Homo sapiens: one gene and its partners. The protein of the gene in region 1 interacts with the protein of each later gene in a biochemical or structural test. Each region holds a gene or a part of one and is shown in the gene's direction. Other genes may lie near its edges.

Region 1 (7,026 bases):
ATTCTCCTGCCTCAGCCTCCCGAGTAGCTGGGGCTACAGGCGCCCGCCGCCACCACTCCCGGCTAATTTTTTAGCCGACCTGATTCTTAACTGCAAGTGGATGGCGAGGCGGTGTCTGTCTTTGCCTAGAAAGGGAGGATCCTGGTGGCAGCTCTTTACTCTGCGGCTGAACTAATCTGTCTGGGCACCCAGGAACACCTCATCTGCATCCAGGGTGGGAAGGGACCCCAGAGGCATGATTTTCTGTTGGTTTTTTGCTGATGTAACTGTTGTTGCTGTTGTTTTGAGACAGAGTTTCGCTCTGTCACCCAGGCTGGAGTGCCGTGGTGCCATCACAGCTCACTGCAGCCTCAACCTCCTGGGCTCAAGCAGTCCTCCACCTTGGCCTCCTTAGTAGCTGGGACTACAACTGTGAGCCACCATGCCCGGCCAATTTTTTTTTTTTTTTTTTTTTTACACGGAGTTTCATTCTTGTTGCTCAGGCTGGAGTGCAATGGTGCGATCTTAACTCACCACAACCTCCGCCTCCCAGGTTCAAACGATTCTCCTGCCTCAGCCTCCGAGTAGCTGGGATTACAGGCATGCGCCACCACACCTGGCTAATTTTGTGTATTTTTAGTAAATATGGGGTTTATCCGTGTTGGTCAGGCTGGTCTTGAACTCCCGACCTCAGGTGATCTGCCGGCCTCGGCCTCCCAAAGTGCTGGGATTACAGGCATGAGCCACCACGCCCGGCTGGCCCAAAACTTTTAAGCAGATTTTAGATGTGCAGAGAAAAGCATAAGGAACAGAATACCACTGATGCTTCTCACCCCCTGAGATAAAATGTCACCAGTAAGTGCAGGCAGCATTTCCTACATCCTTCTCTGGGCCCTGGGTCCGTCTCCCCTCTACCCCTCCAGCCTGAATTTGCAGTTCTTCCCATGTCTGCTTGCTACTTTTCAACTTTGTTTTTTGCCCCTTTTGAAATTTGGTCAAACGAAGCGAGAATGAATCAAACATTGGTTTACAACGACCCCAAGAAGGAAGGGAGACCCAGCAGCAGAGAAGTCGCCTCCCAGCTGCCATGGGTGTGATCCGTCCCAGAGCCACAGATCCCCTGCCTCTCCCCTATGCCTCCAGGATCACCCAGCAGCCTCCATAGGGCAGAGGGTGTAGAGGAGCTGGGAGGGGCTTGAGAGGTTGGCCCTGAGGGGCTCCAGCCAGAGTGACTCTGAGCTTGTGGCTTGGACTCGTGGCTGTCATCTCCTTTCTGGAACTCTGCTGAGGCCCAGGTGGTGGTCACTGTGGTGCTCCCACGTCAGTGGGATGAGACCAAGAGCAGCCGCTGCGTGCAGCTGCCCACGTGTCATTCAGAGGACAGCCGAGTGGCCGCCTGGGAAGGCAGTGCCGCCCCAAGGTGGCAGCTGGGCAGCAGAGGAGTTGTGAGCAGTCTGACAGGTCCCTCACCCTCAGTTTCTCAGTTTTGACATCTTCAAACTTAGAGTTGGAAGAGAAGGGCAGGTGACATGGGCCCCTTATCTGAGGCACTGGCACATGACCCTGCGTCTTCTCAGGGACCTGAAGGCTGGGGAACAGGTGAAACAGTGTTTGTGCCCTCTGTGTTGTAGTCCAGCCCCAACCATCCCAACAGCCGCCTCTTCTGTCAGGGGCCCTGCGCCATGCAGTCCCACATTGTGAGCAGCGAGTGCCCCAGAGACAGGTGGGTCCCTGGGAAGGTGTTCTCTGCACCTGTGCCACTCCACTGTAGCAGGCGCCATCCCAGGGAGGCGTCGCAGAGGCCACTCAGGTCCTTCTGTGCCTGCAGGTGGCATCCTGCACCTCAGCCCTGCCCTTCAGTGAAGGCTTTGACTGTCCCTGGCCACAGCACTGCCAGTCCCCGACTTGAAGGGGAAAGCAGATTCATGCAGAAAACCTTTGTTTACCACGCCCCCTGCTGGCCATCCTGGGGCCTGCAAGTCCCCAGGACTGATCTGTTGGGCATGTCCTCGGGTGAGGTTTAAGCCACAGGACAATGTTGACTGAGCTTTCTTGTTTTGCTTGTAGCTGATGTTTTCACGCAGATTAAAGTGTTATCGGAATGCTGTCAGGTCCCTTAATGTTAGAATTCAGGGTCATTAAGTGGTGCACACCCTTCAGTGATTAGGAGAAACACAGGCGGAAATAATGATTATATGACTTACAGGCCCACAGCAGGCTGGAGGCCACACAGAGGACTGGGGCCAGGCCCTGGAGCATAGGCAGGGGACAGCTGAGAGGGTGGCAGCCAGCCTTGTCTATCGGGGAGTAGGGTGGGGTCACTGTATGCTGGTGGGCAGGTGCTCGAATGGATTTTTTACAGGAAATGGTGGATGCCGGGTGCGGTGGCTCCTGCCTGTAATCCTAGCACTGGGAGGCCGAGGCGGGTGGATCACCTAAGGTCAGGAGTTTGAGACCAGGCTGACCAACATGATGAAAACCTGTCTCTACTAAAAATACAAAACAAAATTAGCCAGACATGGTGGCGGGCACCTGTAATCCCAGCTACTTGGGAGGCTGAGGCAGGAGAATCGCTTGAACCCCAGAGGTGGAGGTTGCAGTGAGCCGAGATCATGCCATTACACTCCAGCCTTGGCAACAGAGCAAAAATCCGTCTCAAAAAAAAAAAACATAAAAATAAAGGAAGTGGTGGGAAATTGAGGAGCCCAGTCTACCAGGTGGGAGAGATGCCTCCAGGCTTCTTTCTCTGGCATCAGCTTGAGGCATTTGGGTGTGCTGTCCCACATCTGACCCCCCAGGCAGCAGCCTGTGCTGTGTGCATGCTGTGGGCCTGGGGGCAGACCTCGTGCATGATGACGAGTGCTGTTTGGGTGGCAGAGGCTGCTGGAGGAGTCTGGGTCCAGCACCTGGCAAAGCGCGTGATGAGCACAATTAAACAGGCAAGCAGCCCAGAGGCACCCCTGTAACTTGGAACCCCAAGAAGCATGAGGGCGGGGTCAGCGAGGAAGTCACGTGGTTGTGTCCAGCCGTTCCACCGGGAGCTGGTCCCTGGGAGGACAGGAAGGAACTACATTGAGGAACTGAGGTGGGGGGTGGAGAACGGGAAGCCGTGCCAAGGGTGACTCAGCCCTGCTTCTGGTGTGAGAATGTTAAACCTATGTTGAGAATGAATGCTGAGGCCCCTAACCTCACCAGGTACTCGCTGCTTCACGTTGATTAAGTCTCTTTTAAAAGCCAACAGCTCATCAAGGAAGTGGATGCCAAAACTACTCATGGAATTCTACAGAAACCAGTGGAGGCTGACACCGACCTCCTGGGGGATGCAAGCCCAGCCTTTGGGAGTGGCAGCTCCAGCGAGTCTGGCCCAGGTGCCCTGGCTGACCTGGACTGCTCAAGCTCTTCCCAGAGCCCAGGAAGTTCTGAGAACCAAATGGTGTCTCCAGGAAAAGTGTCTGGCAGCCCTGAGCAAGCCGTGGAGGAAAACCTTAGTTCCTATTCCTTAGACAGAAGAGTGACACCCGCCTCTGAGACCCTAGAAGACCCTTGCAGGACAGAGTCCCAGCACAAAGCGGAGACTCCGCACGGAGCCGAGGAAGAATGCAAAGCGGAGACTCCGCACGGAGCCGAGGAGGAATGCCGGCACGGTGGGGTCTGTGCTCCCGCAGCAGTGGCCACTTCGCCTCCTGGTGCAATCCCTAAGGAAGCCTGCGGAGGAGCACCCCTGCAGGGTCTGCCTGGCGAAGCCCTGGGCTGCCCTGCGGGTGTGGGCACCCCCGTGCCAGCAGATGGCACTCAGACCCTTACCTGTGCACACACCTCTGCTCCTGAGAGCACAGCCCCAACCAACCACCTGGTGGCTGGCAGGGCCATGACCCTGAGTCCTCAGGAAGAAGTGGCTGCAGGCCAAATGGCCAGCTCCTCGAGGAGCGGACCTGTAAAACTAGAATTTGATGTATCTGATGGCGCCACCAGCAAAAGGGCACCCCCACCAAGGAGACTGGGAGAGAGGTCCGGCCTCAAGCCTCCCTTGAGGAAAGCAGCAGTGAGGCAGCAAAAGGCCCCGCAGGAGGTGGAGGAGGACGACGGTAGGAGCGGAGCAGGAGAGGACCCCCCCATGCCAGCTTCTCGGGGCTCTTACCACCTCGACTGGGACAAAATGGATGACCCAAACTTCATCCCGTTCGGAGGTGACACCAAGTCTGGTTGCAGTGAGGCCCAGCCCCCAGAAAGCCCTGAGACCAGGCTGGGCCAGCCAGCGGCTGAACAGTTGCATGCTGGGCCTGCCACGGAGGAGCCAGGTCCCTGTCTGAGCCAGTAAGTGTGAGGATGGGATGGGGAGCGTGGCGTGGGGCAGCTGCCCTGCAGTGTATGTGGTCCAGGACCCGAGGCCAGAAGTGTCATCAGATACTCCTTTGAGGCCGGGTAGGTTCTGCCTGAGGAGGGGCCTCTGGATAAAAACAGGGCTCAGGTGGCTCCCAGCTGAGGGTGCTTGGCCTTGCCTTGGCTGCCATGCATCTCTTTAGTGCTCCTGGCCTAAGGAGGGATCCAATAAGGGCGGGCTCAGGCCAGAAGCCAAATGCAACCAACCCTGGGCAGGACCCTGTCCCCCAGTCATGTTCCTCCTCAGGTGAACTTGACTTGGGTGTGTAACTCCAAAAGCCAGGCAAAGCCTGTTACTGCCTGGGTGGCGTCCGCTGCTTGCTGGGGTCTTGGCCGTGGGTCTGCTGCCTCCTGGCTGAATGGTCTTAGGCTACATCTCCTAGAGTTGCTCAGTGGGAGATTGTCCTGCCTGTAGGGTCCAGCCCTACTGGGTCTGTGGGTTTTTTCTCCTCGTGTGCATAGACAAGAGATTGTACAAATAAAGACACAAGAAAAAGACAGAAGAAAAGACAGCTGGGCCCGGGGGACCACTACCACCAAGGCACGGAGATCGGTAATGGCCCCGAATGTCTGGCTGCGCTGTTACTTATTGGATACAAGGCAAGGGGACAGGTTAAGGAGTGTGAGCCATCTCCAATGATAGGTCAGGTCACGCAAGTCACGTGTCCACTGGGCCCTTCCCTGTTTGGCAGCCAAGGCGGAGAGAGAGGACAGCTGACGCCATTATTTTTTCTATGTATTTCAAAGACTTTAGCACTTTGACTAATTCTGCTACTGCTATCTAGAAGACAGAGCCAGGTGTACAGAGCGGATCATGAAAGTGGACCAGGAGCGTGACTGCTGAAGCACAGCATCACAGGGACACAGGCCTCTGGATGGCTGCGGGCGGGCCTGACTGATTCCACAAGAGATGGTGGAGCAGAGTCTTCTCTAACTCCCCCAGGGAAAGGGAGACTCCCTTTCCCAGTCTAATTAACGGGTGCCTTCCCAGGCACTGGTGCTACCGCTAGACCAAGCTAGGTAACGGGTGCCTTCCCAAGTGCTGGTGTTACCGCTAGACCAGGGAGCCCTCCAGTGGCCCTGTCCGGGCGTGACAGAGGGCTCACACACCTCTTCCGGTCACTTTCTCACCGTGTGCCTTCACCTCCTATCTCTATATGGCCTGGTTTTTCCTAGGGTTATTTGTTTGTTTGTTTGTTTTTTGAGACAGAGTCTCGCTCTGTCACCCAGGCTGGAGCGCAGTGGCGTGATCTCGCCTCACTGCGAGTTCTGCCTCCCGGGTTCACACCATTCTCCTGCCTCAGCCTCCCGAGTAGCTGGGACTGCAGGCACCCGCCACCATGCCCGGCTAATTTTTTTGTATTTTTTAGTAGAGACGGGGTTTCACCGTGTTAGCCAGGATGGTCTAGATATGACCTCGTGATCCGACCGCCTCGGCCTCCCAAAGTGCTGGGATTACATGCGTGAGCCACCGCACCCGGCGTTTCCTAGGTTATTATTGTAGAACAAAGATTATTATAATATTAGAATAAAGAGTAAAGCTACAAACTAATGATTAACGATATTCATATATAATCATATCTATAATCTATTTCTAGTATAACTATTCTTATTCTGTATATTTATGATACTGGAACAGCTTGTGCCCTTGGTGTCTTGCCTTGGCCCCTGGGTGGCTTGCTGCCCACACCTGCCCCAGCCTCCACATTTGAAGCCTTTTGTCAGTTTCACAGTAAAAGGGATGTACTCATCCTTGTGATTCCCTTTGGCTGCATCGTGCTGACTTTAGAGCTCCCAGCCTGCTTCTCCCAGAGCTGGCAGGCAAGGCGCGTGTTTTCCTGCTGGGTGAGGTTGGTGAGGCAGTTTTGTGGCCAGGTCGCTTGGGACAGCCCCATGCCTGGCACGCTCTAGCTGAATGTTCACGTGGCCGGCACAGCAGTGCAGGGAAAGGCGATGGCAGCTCAGTGCTGGAGCAGGGGACGCCGGGGTTATGGGGTGGGGGGCATGGGCCTCTGCTGACTCTGTCTCCCCAGGCAGCTGCATTCAGCCTCAGCGGAGGACACGCCTGTGGTGCAGTTGGCAGCCGAGACCCCAACAGCAGAGAGCAAGGTAAGGGGTGCTTGTGTGGGTACCTGTGCTCCTGGCCTGGTCGTGTAGAAGAGTAGCAGGCAGTGGAAGCCCCCAGCAGCCTTGGGTGACGGGGTGGGATGTCCCGCTCCCTCTCCCCCAAGTCTACTTCAACAAGGTTGTGGGGAGGCAAAGCCACACCCCAAGTACCTTGACTGCACTGCACAGGGTGACTCTGCCCTTTCCTCCAGGAGAGAGCCTTGAACTCTGCCAGCACCTCGCTTCCCACAAGCTGTCCAGGCAGTGAGCCAGTGCCCACCCATCAGCAGGGGCAGCCTGCCTTGGAGCTGAAAGAGGAGAGCTTCAGAGACCCCGCTGAGGGTACGTTGCCTGGCACAGACGTCACACACAGTCTGCCCGGAGGGGATCCCGTGAGCACTTGGGCAGCTCGAGACACCTGCATCATCGGCAGGTGGTCATTTCGCAGGCAGTTGGGTCCCTTGACTTTGAATGACTCATGCACAAACTTGTGGTTTGTCAAAACTTAGTCAGTGTTAGGAGAGCAGGGCTCATACCTTTAACATAAAAGACTTCTAGAAA
Region 2 (7,026 bases), on another chromosome or scaffold:
CAATTTAATCAAATGATTAGAAAGAAGGAGAGAATATAGTTTGAGAAAATGGAATAAGAATTTTCCAAATAGGATGGTCTACTTAAAACTACATACTTTGTAGCTATATACATTGAAATAGTTAATATGTTCTAACAGTACATGTGCAAGTATTCAACAGACTCCAGTTATGCACCTTTTGTGGGCAAACCAGGTGTGTTGTGCTGTGAGAAATAGAAAGAATGGTGAGACAAATGGTTTTCTGGTGGAAACAGACATGTAAATAAATAAATTAAACATAGAACTAGTTCTATAATAGAAGTGCTGTAATGAATCCTGTAAAATGCAGATATGGAAAATGAGTTGGGGAGTAGTGTTGTGGATTTTGGGAAGCACTTGAGCAAAAACCTAGAAGTGTGGAATAATTGGGTTATGCAAAGAAAGTCAAGTGGTTTAGCATGTTTTTGGTAGATAATAGGAAGGTAGGCTGGGATCTAATGATGGAATGTTTAGGTGTTAAAGAATTTAGATTTTAATTTTTATGCAGTGGGGAGACATAAAAAATGTATTAGATCTGGTAGCATTTTAAGGATTGATTGAAAGCAGGGCGACTACTTAATTAGTTTTGGTAAAAGATGACTAGGACAGTGACAAAGCATTGGAAAGTAGAATCGATAAAACTGAATTATCACTGGAATGTGAGAGAATAGTTAGATTTTGAGGCTTCTAGCTTAGGAGGATGCTGTTAAGAATATTGGAAGAGCACGGCAGGTTTTTTTTTTTAAGAGGGAAATAATGATTCAGGTTTTGGGATGTTGATGTTGAGTTGCTGGTAGAATATTTATAAATATTTTACAGATACTTGAAATTCAAGTCTGCTGAAAGCTCAGGAAAAAACGTTAGTCATGTCTAGGGCTATAGACTTGGTTATTATTTCGTAGTGGGGAAGAGTGAATATGGTTTCCCAGGAAGAAAGTATGGTATTAATAAAGAGGGCTTAAGATGAACTTTGGAAATGTCTACATTTAAGACTTGAACAAAGGAAAGGAAGTCTGAAACAGAAGAGGAAGCAAAAATTGGAGTACAGTCTCATAGAAGAAGGTAGGGAAAAATAAAATTTAAAGGATAAGATGGACGACATTGTCACATTCTGCAGAGAGGTTGAATAAAGTGATGAAGACCCAGGAAAAGGGACTTGAATTGGTAATTAGGAGGACATTAGTAACCTCATTAAAAATATATGTATGCTGTTCCTGGCAGAACAAAAACCAAACCAAACAGGAAAACAGTAGTTTAGAGTGAGAGTGAAGTGGGATTGAGAAATAATTGAAAGGTAAGAGGATAAAGCCAGTGAATATAACATTATTCTTAGTATAAGCTTGCTGCTGAAAAAGAGAGATGAGGTGGGTCAAACTGAGGGAAGATTTATCTAGAATTGAGAAAACTTGATCATTTTTATAGGCCTGAAGGGAAAGAGAGAAAGTGGGAATATTTGTCAAGCAAGATCCTAAAAAGAGACCAGAGAGGATGGAATTAAGAAGTCAATTATTGTTCATGGTAAGCCTTTTTTTTTTTGAGACAGGGTCTCTTGCTCTGTCGCTCAGGCTGGAGTGTGGTGGTATGATCTCGGCTCACTGCAACCTCTGCTTCCCAGGCTCAGGTGATCCTCCCACCTCAGCCTCCGGAGTAGCTGGGACTACAGGCGTGTGCCACCACACCTGGCTAGTTTTGTTTTTGTTTTTGTTTTGTTTTGTTTTGTTTGTTTGTAAAGATGGAGTTTCGCCCCATTGCCTAGGCTGGTCTTGAACTCCTGGACTCAGTGACCCTCCCACTTTGACCTCCCAAAGTGCTGGGATTACCGGCGGGAGCCGCTGTGCCTAGCCCAAGCCTTTTTATTCTTCTTGAATCCTGAGATAGAGAGGAAGAGGTGGATAGTGACATAGAGAAAGTGAGGAAACATGTATTAGAAAAAACTTTCTTATCGATGAACTACATTTAGGGTGGAAACCTGTGGCTGTGGATCAGGTGTGAACCAGCAGTTGCTTACGGAGAGATGCATGTGGCCTGAAGTGTCTTACTTCTTCCTGTGAATAGAAATACTTGTTTTTTCAGAGTAAAATATTAACTTCTATTTCTTTTTCTTGCGCAGGAACTGAAACATTTGATCTTGGAGGCAGCAGATGGCTTTCTGTTTATTGTCTCATGTGAGACAGGCAGGGTGGTGTATGTGTCTGACTCCGTGACTCCTGTTTTGAACCAGCCACAGTCTGAATGGTTTGGCAGCACACTCTATGATCAGGTGCACCCAGATGATGTGGATAAACTTCGTGAGCAGCTTTCCACTTCAGAAAATGCCCTGACAGGTGAGAGTTATGTGTATGGGAAATGAATGAGAAGTCCTTTCTTGTTTTTTTCCTGAGACTTAAGAGATGTTTTAGCTGTTAAATTGGTTTGTTGACTCTGGCAAGGCTTCAAGAATTTTCTACTTTAATGAATATAGTCAGTTCTTTTTATCCATATGAGATTATCTACTTTGTGGCTCAGCCTTAGAAAATATTTCATTGGTGATAATATTTTACATTTATCTTAATATTGGTATAAATAGAACAGTAAAAGCCAAACCTACAATACTTTTTTTTTTCCGTTCTAAAAGAATTATCCATGTTTTTATCTCATTTGTATGGATAATTATCTGGTATTTTTTCTACCTCCTGGTGCTTGGCTTTGTGCTAGGTTCAATGATAACAGCTTTTTATTCTATAGATATGGTTATTGGTCAATGTATAAGGTGTTTTCTGTTGTTGTTGTTGTTGTTGTTTGTATCTGTACTGTTGTTCTTTTTTTCTCCCCTATTTTATTATGTTCAGTCTTTTGGCCAGAGTTTGGCTAGAGGAAACAAGTCATATCTATTCTTGAGCAACTCTAGAAAAAAATTTAAAGTGGAAGCAGATAAAAAAACTGGTAGTTAAAATGCAAGAAATTTCAATATACTCATATTAGTGTTGTTGATCTTTAGTTTTCCTCCTTTTTTCCCACCCAAAAAAGAGACAGGGTCTCTCTCTTGCCTAGGCTGGAGTACGGTGGCACATCATAGCTTACTGTAATCTTGAACTCTTCTGGGCTCAGTAATCTGCCTGCTTACAGCTTCTTGAGTAGCTAGGAGTAGTTCATGTCACCACACTTGACCAATTTTTAAATTTTTTGTAGAGACAGGTTCTGTCTGTTGCCCAGACTGGTCTCAAACTCCTGGCCTTCAGCATTCCTCCTCCCATCTTGGCTTCTCAAAGGGCTGGGATTATCGGCATGAGCCACCACACTTGACCAGTTTTCCCCTCCTTTATGTTTTTATGATTTCATTTTTCTAGTTCTTCCTTTTCCCCAAAAGTTGTTCTTCGTTTCTGTATAATAAAGAAGACAAACAGATCTATATGTTTCTATAACATATAAAATTACTTGGTTTTTTTCTTTTTAAAATTTTTTCTTTTTATTCTTTTTTTTTTTTTTGAGACAAGGTCTTGCTTTATTGCTGAGGCTAGAGTACAGTGACTCTTCACAGGCACAGTCATAGCACACTACAGCCTCAAACTCCTGCCCTCAAGCAGTCCTCCTGCCTCAGCCTCCTGATTAGCTGGGACTACAGAAAAGTACTTGTTTTTCAACCAATGACATTTACTCTGTATGTATGTCTGTATGTGTATACAGATAATCAGCTATGAGAATATAGCCTTGCCTCTTGTTTTCTACTACTACTTTCCACTCCTACTTTTCCTTGCACAATGTTATTTTCAATGCTGCCTTTGAACTTAAGAGTGAGATTCATTGATGATAATTGAAGTATTTTAGGCTTGAAAAAAAATTCATCTCCTGCTTGGTCAGTTCTGTTATAAGCAAGGAGATTAAGGGCATGAATAGGATGCTTACTTATCTTTGCCTTCAGTATCTCTCCCCCTCTTCCCCACACACAAAAATGCACTCCAGACTGCTCTTCACATCTTCCTTCAGGGCGTATCCTGGATCTAAAGACTGGAACAGTGAAAAAGGAAGGTCAGCAGTCTTCCATGAGAATGTGTATGGGCTCAAGGAGATCGTTTATTTGCCGAATGAGGTGAGTGTCAAGCTGAGGATTGTGATTTGGTATAGGAAGGATCAAGAGCTGAGAGTTTTATTTCTGTCAGAGTTAAGTTGGATTAGCTCCAGTGGATTAAATTTAACTCTCCATACCCAGATGGATTGTAACACAGAATAAAGTATTTGGAAAGGGAACTAACGTTTCTGAACTTGCCAGACACTATGATAGGTGCTTTATATCTGTCATCTTATTTTATCCTCACAATTGCCTTGTAGTGTAAGATTGATGGTTACCATTTTGCAGATGGAAAAACAGATATAAAGAAATGAACTTGGCCAGGTGCAGTGGCTCAAGGCTGTAATCCCAGCACTTTAGGAGGCTGAGGCGAGTGGATCACCTGAGGTCAGGAGTTTGAGACCAGCCTGGCCAACATGGTGAAACCCCATCTCTACTAAAAAAAAACAACAACAAAATTAGACGGGCGTGGTGGCGTGCGCCCATAATCCCAGCCACTTGGAGGCTGAGGCAGGACAATTGCTTGAACCCAGGAGGTGGAGGTTGCAGTGAGCCGAGATTGTGCCATTACACTCCAGCCTAGGCAAAAAGAGTGAAACTCTGTCTCAAAAAAAAAAAAAAGAAAAAGAAAAAGAAATGAATTTCCCACTGTTACATACTGTTTGATACAGGATTTTGTTTTAATTCATAGTAGTCTGACTACAAAACCTCTACTTTTTCCCTGTTACAACACAAGGCAATATCCATTTACTCAGACCATTTCTTCTTTTTTTTTTTGGTTAGAAATTTGAGACTTCCTATGTCTTTCAGTAGGTGTTTAGTGTTTATAAATTATATACTGTACGTTTTAGGATTCTGTAGAAAATATGGTGGTCCTTTCTATACAGGTACAAAAGGCATCTCAGGGTCACAAAGTTCAGGCTATATAATGGAAATTGACTACATTGTACTGAGAGGATAGTTGCTAGAAATTATGGGTAGGATATTAAAGGTTTGCTTGGAGAGGCACAAAATTGAACATTATGTGGTTTAGTGATTTATTTTTATTTTTATTTATTTATTTTTTTGAGACAGAGTCTTGCTCTGTTGCCCAGGCTGGAGTGCAGTGGCATGATCTTGGGTCATTACAACCTCTACCTCCTGGGTTCAAGCGATTCTCATGCCTCAGTTTCCTGAGTAGCTGGATTGCCACCACAGCTGGCTAATTTTTGTATTTTTAGTAAAACAGTGTTTCACCATGTTGGCCAGGCTGGCCTCAAACTCTTGACCTCAAGTGATTCGCCTGCGTCAGCCTCCCAAAGTGCTGAGATTACAGGCCTGAACCACTGCACCCAGCGTGTAATTTAGAGTAGCTTCTAGACCCAGACTGCTGGATTTTGTTTTAATCCATATTCTATGGATTTGAATTCTAGCTTTGATGCTATCTTCTGAAACCTTGGATGATTACATGACTACATTGTGCTTTGATTTCATCATCTCACATTGGCGATAATGTTAATACTGACTTTATAAAGTTGTTATGAAGATTAGATGAATTAATATATGTAAAGATATTTAGAACAGAGCATGACACATATTAACCCTATGTAAGTTTTATTTTTGTTTTAAAGGATAGGGAGAGGGAAAGTAGCATTGGCAGGAGTATCCCAATATGTGGACATGGCTAATGCAAAGACATAGGCAAGAGCAAGATAATAATGAACTGTAGCAATTACATTAAGTTGTGGTTAATGTAGAGCAGGAGTAAGCAAACCACAGCCCTTTATTTGTAAATAAAGTTTTATTGGAACATAGCCATGCCCATATTTTTACATATTATCTATGGCTATTTTCATGCTATAATGCTAGAGTTGACTAGTTGCAACAGACTTTCTGGCCCGCAAAGCTGAAAATATGTACTATCTGGTCCTTTACAGAAAAAGCTTGCCAACTCTTGATGTTGAGAATGTTTGCATATGAAGAACATATGGAACATTTTGACTTCAAATTCTAAAAGTTTTAGAAATACTAAACTTGACCTATCTTTATCCTTCATTATTAGTAGCATTACCAATTTTCTATGTCTGGTTGTATCCAGAGCATGTTATTCTGCTATTACTGTGGAAAGTTCTTTGATAGGGCAGTCTGATTGCTTTTAATCTCTTTATTCCTTGAAACAGGTGTGGCAGTAGCTCTGTGGACCCAGTTTCTGTGAATAGGCTGAGCTTTGTGAGGAACAGATGCAGGTGAGATCCTAAGTGGTGAAAACCAAAGGGATGGCCAAATACCTGCAGAGATCATCACATTTTTACCTGTCTTACTGTAGTCGTTCCTTCAGCAGCTCTCACTTGCATCCCTTACCTCCCACTTAACATCCCTTACCTCCCACTTACTTTTTTTCTGGCAATATTTTCCTAAACTTCTAAAACTTCTCTTGAAAATCCTGTTTAAGGAAGTCGCTATGCTATTTTACCTACTTTCCTCCTACTGCATACCTTTTGGTTACTTTACTTTGGCAAGGGTAAAAATGTGGCGGTCATTTTTGGGTGGGAAAGATGATTATCCTGTTTTCTAAACTCCTAAGAGCATAAACTTAAAAGTACTAAGGCAGCATTGCCCTTTGAGTTTTACGGGTAGATTTTTTTTTTTTTTTTCAAACTCCTGTAACTCTTCTAGGAATGGACTTGGCTCTGTAAAGGATGGGGAACCTCACTTCGTGGTGGTCCACTGCACAGGCTACATCAAGGCCTGGCCCCCAGCAGGTAAGAAAGTGAAATAGTAAATATTTCCCCTTGGTACAGTTGGTTCCTCACAGAGTCCATGAAAGCTAATATTTATTATATACCTGGTATATGAAATGTACTTTTGTGTAAGATGAAAGAAAATAGGAAAAGAAAATGTACAATCCTTCCCTTCCATTATTGAGCTTTTATTCCAGTTGAGGAGATAGATAACTCAGGCTGGAAAATGATTCAGTATTGGCT
Region 3 (7,026 bases), on another chromosome or scaffold:
CAATAGAGCTGGATAATACCAGTTAGGAAGCAATAAAGATGAGGTGTGACCACAAAGTAAGAAGTTTTTGCTTTGTTCTTTTTTTTTTTTTTTGAAACGGAGTCTCTCTCTGTCACCCAGGCTGGAGTGGAGTGCGGTCGCGCGCTCTCGGCTCACTGCAAGTTCTGCCTCCCGGGTTCACGCCATTCTCCTGCCTCAGCCTCCCGAGTAGCTGGGACTGCAGGTGCCCACCACCACGCCCAGCTAGTTTTTTGTGTTTTTAGTAGAGACGGGGTTTCACCATGTTAGCAGGATAGTCTCAATCTCCTGACCTCGTGATCCGCCCGCCTCGGCCTCCCAAAGTGCTGGGATTACAGGTGTGAGCCACTGTGCCCGGCCTTTTTTTTTTTCTTTTATTTGAGATGGAATCTCACCCTTTTGCCCAGGCTGGAGTGCAGTGGCCAATCTCGGCTCACTGCAACCTCCTCCTCCCGGGTTTGAGCGATTCTCCTGCCTCAGCCTCCTGAGTAGCTGGGATTACAGGTGCCGGCCACCATACCCAGCTAATTTTTTTTTTTTTTTTTCATATTTTCGGTATAGACGAGGTTTCACCATGTTGGCCAGGCTGGTCTTGAACTCCTAACCTCAAGTGATCCGCCTGCCTCAGCCTCCCAAAGTGCTAGGATTATAGGCATGAGCCACCGCGCCTGGCCTGCTTTGTTCGCCTGCTTTGTTCTTAATGTGGCTCATAAAGGCTATTCCAAAAAAGAAGTTTTGGAAATGTTTTTCAGCAATGGTGATATCACTGGAATATGCATATATTCCTGAAATGATCAGTTTTAAAGAATCATTTGCATGTTTTAAATTTTGAAGCCTGTTTACTTTGTGGTCATACTTGAAAGGTCTGCTATCGAACTACCAATTTTTAATAGCTTGATGAACATTTAGGTTTTTACTATGTGCCAGGTTCTGTCCTAAGTACTTTACAAATATTAGCTCACTTCATAAGCTCATTCTAATGATTATCCCCATTTTACAGGTGAGGAAATGGGGCACTGAGTCATTAAGTCACTTGCCCAAGGTCACCCAAGTAGTGAGTAGATGCATCAGTAGCGAGTCTGAACTTCCAGGTCTGACTTCAGACTTGGGCAGTTTGGCTTCCCGGTCTGGGCTCTTAACCACTATGCTATGCTGCTCCTATGACTTATTCTTGGTTAAATGTTTTAAATTGTTTTGATCTGGAAGAGATGATGGTCCTTTTAGTAAATGATATCCAACATAGGTTATAATACTGTTAGAGGGGCCAATAAGCGGGTTATGAAAATAGCCTATTGATTAGAAAAGTTGTGGTCAACATTCAATTCACATGAGATTCAGCAAGAAAATAAAGAATGTGACCAGGCGCGGTGGCTCATGCCTGTAATCCCAGCACTTTGGGAGGCCGAGGAGGGCAGATCACGAGGTCAGGAGTTCGAGACAGCCTGGCCAACATGGTGAAACCGTGTCCTACTAAAAATACAAAAATTAGCCAGGTATGGTGGTGGGTGCTTGTAATCCCAGCTACTTAGGAGGCCGAGGCAAGAGAATTGCTTGAACCTGGGAGTCAGAGGTTGCAGTGAACTAGGATTGTGCCACTGCACTCCAGCCTGGGCAACAGAGTGAGACTCCATCTCAAAAAAAAAAAAAAAAAAAGAATGTGTGTGAAGTAAAATAATTTTGCTAGAATTACTTGACACTGAATGTAAGTAGTTGGACAAAGAGGATGCAAGGGCTAGAACTAGATTCTCAAAAAGTTTCATGCAAAAGGCTATTTAAAAACCTGAGTTATCAGGGGACACTCATGGAAAAGTTGGTGTTGTATTAAGAATATGTCCCTGTACAAGAACCAGAAGTCAGAGACAAATGGATACTCGCAATACATCCAGAGGGGTAAACAATGCTATTCCTCAGGGATTACTACTTAACTAGGTGCTCTTCAAAGCATTAACTGCTAGTATGTCCTCTGATACTATATAAATGGGTCAAAACCAACAAAAAATACCCCCACATGGAAATGTTTTGAAGTGGACTCCTGAATAACATTTAGAGATTCAAAACAATCCTAACTCTTTTCGTAGAAGAATTGGCCCCACATTCAAACACCTTCAAATAAATGTTAGATGCCAAGGAAGGTATCTAACAGTCATTAGGAACTTCCATAATGATACCGGTTCATGGGCCACACTACTAGCAATATCATCAAATGCTGCACAGTAACAGAAAGAGTACTGAAAACTCAAAAGAAAAATGATCTGACCAGTGAATAAAATGTTCAGTACAGAAGCAGCACTAGGCACTCAGCCCCAGAAAGGCAGATAGGTAATCTAGGGGCAATACAAAGCATAACAAAATATTTAAGGGACTGAGATGGCTGCCAAATCATTATAGGCTAAAAAGGCAAGAAATAATCACTTTGGGAAGACCAAGGCTGAGAGGTATTATCATCAAAGGCTACAAAACCAGAGGGGACATAAAAAAGGAGAATACAATTTTGTTCGCCAAATCCTGGAACCTTCCAAGAGAGCAGCACATGGGACTCAGGGCAAAGCTAAGACCAAAAACAGGAAGTTCATCGATGGCTATAAAGTTATGGAACTTATCCCAGTTGCTTCAAATAAGATAAAATCAATACATTACAAGTTTTAGACTTGAAATCATTAACTTACAAAATGCTTTATATAAGGATCAGGACTTTCTTCTATTGCTTTTTTTATTTTCCTGAGCTTTTAAATTTCTCTTTTTCTTAGTGACAGTAGAGTAACATGTCTTCACCACAACCTCAAATATATCTAGCTTCTCACTTGTGCTCTATGCTATCTGTTCTATGGGATTCCTTATTTTTCTTGGTGTCATCCGTCTGAAGCATTCTATGGGCCTGATGGACTAGGCTTCATCCTGGGACTTTTCATTGCAGCCCTAGGTTGGAGCCCCTATTTCCTGCATCCCATGCTGTCCAGGTCATGGTTTTCTCCCTTCTTTTGTACTTGTCTCAGGAAGTGTGTAGGAGGTAGCCCTCCTGACCTTTTTTTTTAAGTCTTTGTCTAGTACCTTCTGAGTTCTTGTATAAGAAAAAATCTCATTTCCTGAATTGTCTGTTTCCTCTCAGTTCACTAGGTCCTAAAATTTTCTTATTCATGCTACTGGGTTTTCTTACTTGTCAGATGGCTCTTGGTTGTCCATTTATATTTCAGGGCCGGATAATGATGATTTGAGGTAGCTAGTGTGCAGTGGTTATCTCTAAGGTTCTTCCCAATAAATCCCATCAACTCCCTATTCTTTGATGTGGAGCCTGTACTGAGCCTATGTCAGTGACTGAATGTGGCTGCCCATGTATCGGATTAATAATTTTGTCTAACTGATAATGATAGGTTTTCTAATATTGATTTAATATATGGTGGTACATTGTAAGGTGGAAGTAAACTACCCGCACATCTTTTTGCTTACTCCATTCCTGAAGTAGGAATTCAGATGTTAATAAAGTGGTACTTTGAAAGTCAAGAGGGAATATTGAAAGGATGATTATAAATCAGTTCACATATTTATTTATTTATTTTAGAGACAGGGTCTTGCTGTGTTGCCCAGGCTGGAGTGCAGTGGCACAATCATGGCTCACTGCAGCCTCAAAATCATGGCTTACTGCAGCCTCATTGCTTCTGGGCTCAAGCAGTCCTCCTGCCTCAGCCTCCCCATGTGTTGGGATTACAGGCATGAGCCACCGTGTCCAGCCTCAATTCAAATATTTATTGAACTTCCACTGTGTTCTATGTTTGATGATGTGGAGAGATTTAACCGTTCATTCCTTTAAAAAGATTTTTTTTTTTTTTTGCTAAACCTTCCTGAGTGGCTTGTGCTAGATAAACTCCAAGTTCTATGCATCTCCAGGTTTTTATTTATTTACTTTTTTTTTTTTTTTTTTTTTTTAGATTTTTAGACGGAGTCTCGCTCTGTCCCCCAGGCTGGAGTGCAGTGGCGCAATCTTGGCTCACTGCAAGCTCCGCCTCCCGGGTTCACACCATTCTCCTCCCGAGTAGGTGGGACTACAGGCGCCTGCCACCACGCCCGGCTAATTTTTTGTATTTTTAGCAGAGATGGGGTTTCACCGTGTTAGCCAGGATGGTCTCAATCTCCTGACCTCGTGATCCGCCCGCCTCGGCCTCCCAAAGTGCTGGGATTACAGGCATGAGCCACCACACCTAGCCTATTAATTTACTTTTAAAGCTGGTCTTGAGTTCTTGCTGCCTAGTATGGAATAGGTTGAATCAATTATGGTTTAATTCAGTAAATATCATTGAGTATCCACTATTGTGCAGGCATTGGGCTGAGACGGAAATAAGTAAGCCAGCCTAACAGGCAACACAAAGGTGTAAGCAAATGCATTGCCCTGTGGTAATAATATCAGTGAAAGCATGTGTGGGGTACAGAGGTAGCAAAGAATGCAAGAGATTTTAATGCTGTCCAGTTGAGGGCAAGAAAACCTCTCTGGAAAAGATGACAATTAGGTTTTAAGGATAAATAGTAGTTTTCCTATTTAGGGGAGCCACTCCAGGTAGAGAAAACCTGGAGTAGTTTTCCATGCCTGAAAGAGCCTGGTGTGTTAAGACAGTTTCGAACAGTACTGCCAGAATATAGAGTGGGATGCCTGGGGAGGGGGTGCTAGGAAGCAGTAGGCATGCCTCTAGAGTGGGCCTGACGATCAGTTGGGAGTTGTAGGTAGCCAGTCCAAATGTTAGTTAATTAAATCGCTTTTTTTCTCCTCTCTGAATGCCTTGGGAGAGAAGAACCAGGATGAGAGAGAGAGATCATTGAAGTTGGAGATTAGTGGGCTTTTGGAAGGAAGCTTTGGACTTAAAAGATGATTAACAGGAGGTTTTTAGAGATTTGATAATAGTAAATTATTGGGAATGTGGTGCCTGATTTTCTAGTAGGGTCACCTGGCATAAAATGTTCCAAGCAGATGTTTTGAAGCAGTTGTATACCTGGGAAGGGCAGCATGCATGCGGTAGCAGCATCTCTGACAATAAGCTTGTTTCTGTCTCCCGATTCGCAGAAGACCACGTGGCCTTAAACCAACTGCTGCAACTCTGTGTGCAGGATGATTCTGTGGGCCCAAGTCACCCAGCGCCTATGCTGCAACCAAAAGTGCCTCCTGTCGCTTTGTATCAAAGGACCTTTGTCATGATCTCATTCACAATATTGGTGGTCCCTGAGAGTGGAGCAGTGGAGTGATTGACGTGCCTGAGTTTGAAGAGAGTTAACCACTGGAATCTCTCATGTTTTATTCCCTCCAAAATGCTGCAGTTCAGTGTTGTCCCAGATTTTATGCTTGTGCTTAGATTTCTCTGTTCTCTAATTTGTTAAGTTTGTCTTTAATATTTCACAGGCTTTCTTGATCATGGATGGTGAAGATATACCAGATTTTTCAAGTTTAAAGGAGGAAACTGCTTATTGGAAGGAACTTTCCTTGAAGTATAAGCAAAGGTAATGTTGGAAAGCACACTAAAAGTAGGGGAGGGCATTTGGAATACACCGTGTCTTGTTTGTGCATTTTTCTTTTTAACATAAAGCTAAATTTAGAATTGCAGATTTAGGATTCTAGGATTGAGATTCTACAAACAGTCACCACATGGGTTGTATTTAAATAGTGTAAACATGCCATAAGTCTTTATATTGTTCAAATTATTAAAATAGTAGGAAAACTGTCATTTATGATTTCTTCTGATTGTTACCTGTTCTATGCTTTTTAGTAGGCGGGGCCATCTTTGGCCCGTTTTGCATGCACTGATTCTGCCTCATCATTTTGGTCATTTGGAGATTCTGATAAGCTGTCTGGGGCTCCATAGAACAGACTTTACGTTCTCCTCAGGCAAGCATGATCAGTGTCTGGAGCCAGCAAAGCTTTGAGGGAGGGGGAGAAGCTTCAGGGGCATGGAACGTTTTATAAAATTTCAGTTATTTGGTTGGGAGAACTTTCAGGCAACAACCTTTTAAGCAACAAAACTTGTCTCAAATTTCTTTTTTAAAAATGGGATCTTGCTAAATAAAATATTGATACATTTTCCTATTTTGGTTAACAGAGTTTACTAAGTCTTATCAAACCTTTTACTGCCCTTTCATTATTATCACCGAAGTCAGTTATTCTATTGTGCCAGTGGATATGAAAGGTGTGTATCTATGGCAGGGTTCTTAATCTTTTTCTGTGTCATAGATGTCTTAATGGGCTGGGGTAGCCTGTGGACTCCTCAGCATAATATTTTTAAATGCATAGAATAATAGAATTACAAAGAAAATCAATTATATTGAAAAAAGTTATCTAAATATTAAACTAATTTATGGCATAGTAACATGTACTTCTCTATTAATGCATTAAATAAAAAAAGATACAGAAGTGAATGTAATAACTACCTAATTTTGAAATAGTCATGAAAATAAATATATTTAGAGATACATGCAACGATTCTATTGTGATGTGAAAATATGTGTGATTTCTGTTGAATATGGTAGAAGGAAATGCCAAATTTGTTACTTTAATGAAAGTAAAAATGCATTTTTCTCGCATCTGAGTTCTGTGGTGGAAGAAGCTAATGGTATTGAGCCACGTAGCCTTACTTTTCATAAATATTGTAATCACTGACTTGTGGCTCCTTTTTGGGCTTGTCGTTTTCATTGAACCCTGAATATATACAGTAAGAGATGCAAAACAGATTGTCTTTAGTATATTTTATGAGAGCATTAGCATTCAAGCAAAAATTATCGAATTGCTCTATAATCACCTCCAAGACAATCCTTGTGGTTCTTAGTGTAACTCGTCTTTCCCACTTTGTTTCTGATTAGCTTCCAGGAAGCTCGGGATGAGCTAGTTGAATTCCAGGAAGGAAGCAGAGAATTAGAAGCAGAGTTGGAGGCACAATTAGTACAGGCTGAACAAAGAAATAGAGACTTGCAGGCTGATAACCAAAGACTGAAATATGAAGTGGAGGCATTAAAGGTAATTGCAGCAGTAGACGCTGG

The links. Proteins that work in one complex are often made in the same cells at the same time.
Region 2: the proteins of TACC3 (region 1) and ARNT form a complex in vitro, tested with the Homo sapiens proteins (2 studies listed by BioGRID, with this or other methods).
Region 3: the proteins of TACC3 (region 1) and NDEL1 form a complex in vitro, tested with the Homo sapiens proteins (one study listed by BioGRID).

The regions. Positions count from the first base shown.
Region 1 is NC_000004.12:1,724,495-1,731,520, forward strand, and holds part of TACC3 (transforming acidic coiled-coil-containing protein 3), read left to right. Parts: intron 1-3,213; coding exon 3,214-4,293; intron 4,294-6,392; coding exon 6,393-6,468; intron 6,469-6,677; coding exon 6,678-6,807; intron 6,808-7,026. UniProt on the Homo sapiens protein: Plays a role in the microtubule-dependent coupling of the nucleus and the centrosome. Involved in the processes that regulate centrosome-mediated interkinetic nuclear migration (INM) of neural progenitors.
Region 2 is NC_000001.11:150,831,596-150,838,621, reverse strand, and holds part of ARNT (aryl hydrocarbon receptor nuclear translocator), read left to right. Parts: intron 1-2,128; coding exon 2,129-2,342; intron 2,343-3,981; coding exon 3,982-4,084; intron 4,085-6,222; coding exon 6,223-6,288; intron 6,289-6,718; coding exon 6,719-6,804; intron 6,805-7,026. UniProt on the Homo sapiens protein: Required for activity of the AHR. Upon ligand binding, AHR translocates into the nucleus, where it heterodimerizes with ARNT and induces transcription by binding to xenobiotic response elements (XRE).
Region 3 is NC_000017.11:8,438,862-8,445,887, forward strand, and holds part of NDEL1 (nuclear distribution protein nudE-like 1), read left to right. Parts: intron 1-5,065; exon of another isoform or gene 5,066-5,288; coding exon of another isoform or gene 5,289-5,315; intron 5,316-5,398; coding exon of another isoform or gene 5,399-5,410; coding exon 5,411-5,496; intron 5,497-6,849; coding exon 6,850-7,003; intron 7,004-7,026. UniProt on the Homo sapiens protein: Required for organization of the cellular microtubule array and microtubule anchoring at the centrosome. May regulate microtubule organization at least in part by targeting the microtubule severing protein KATNA1 to the centrosome.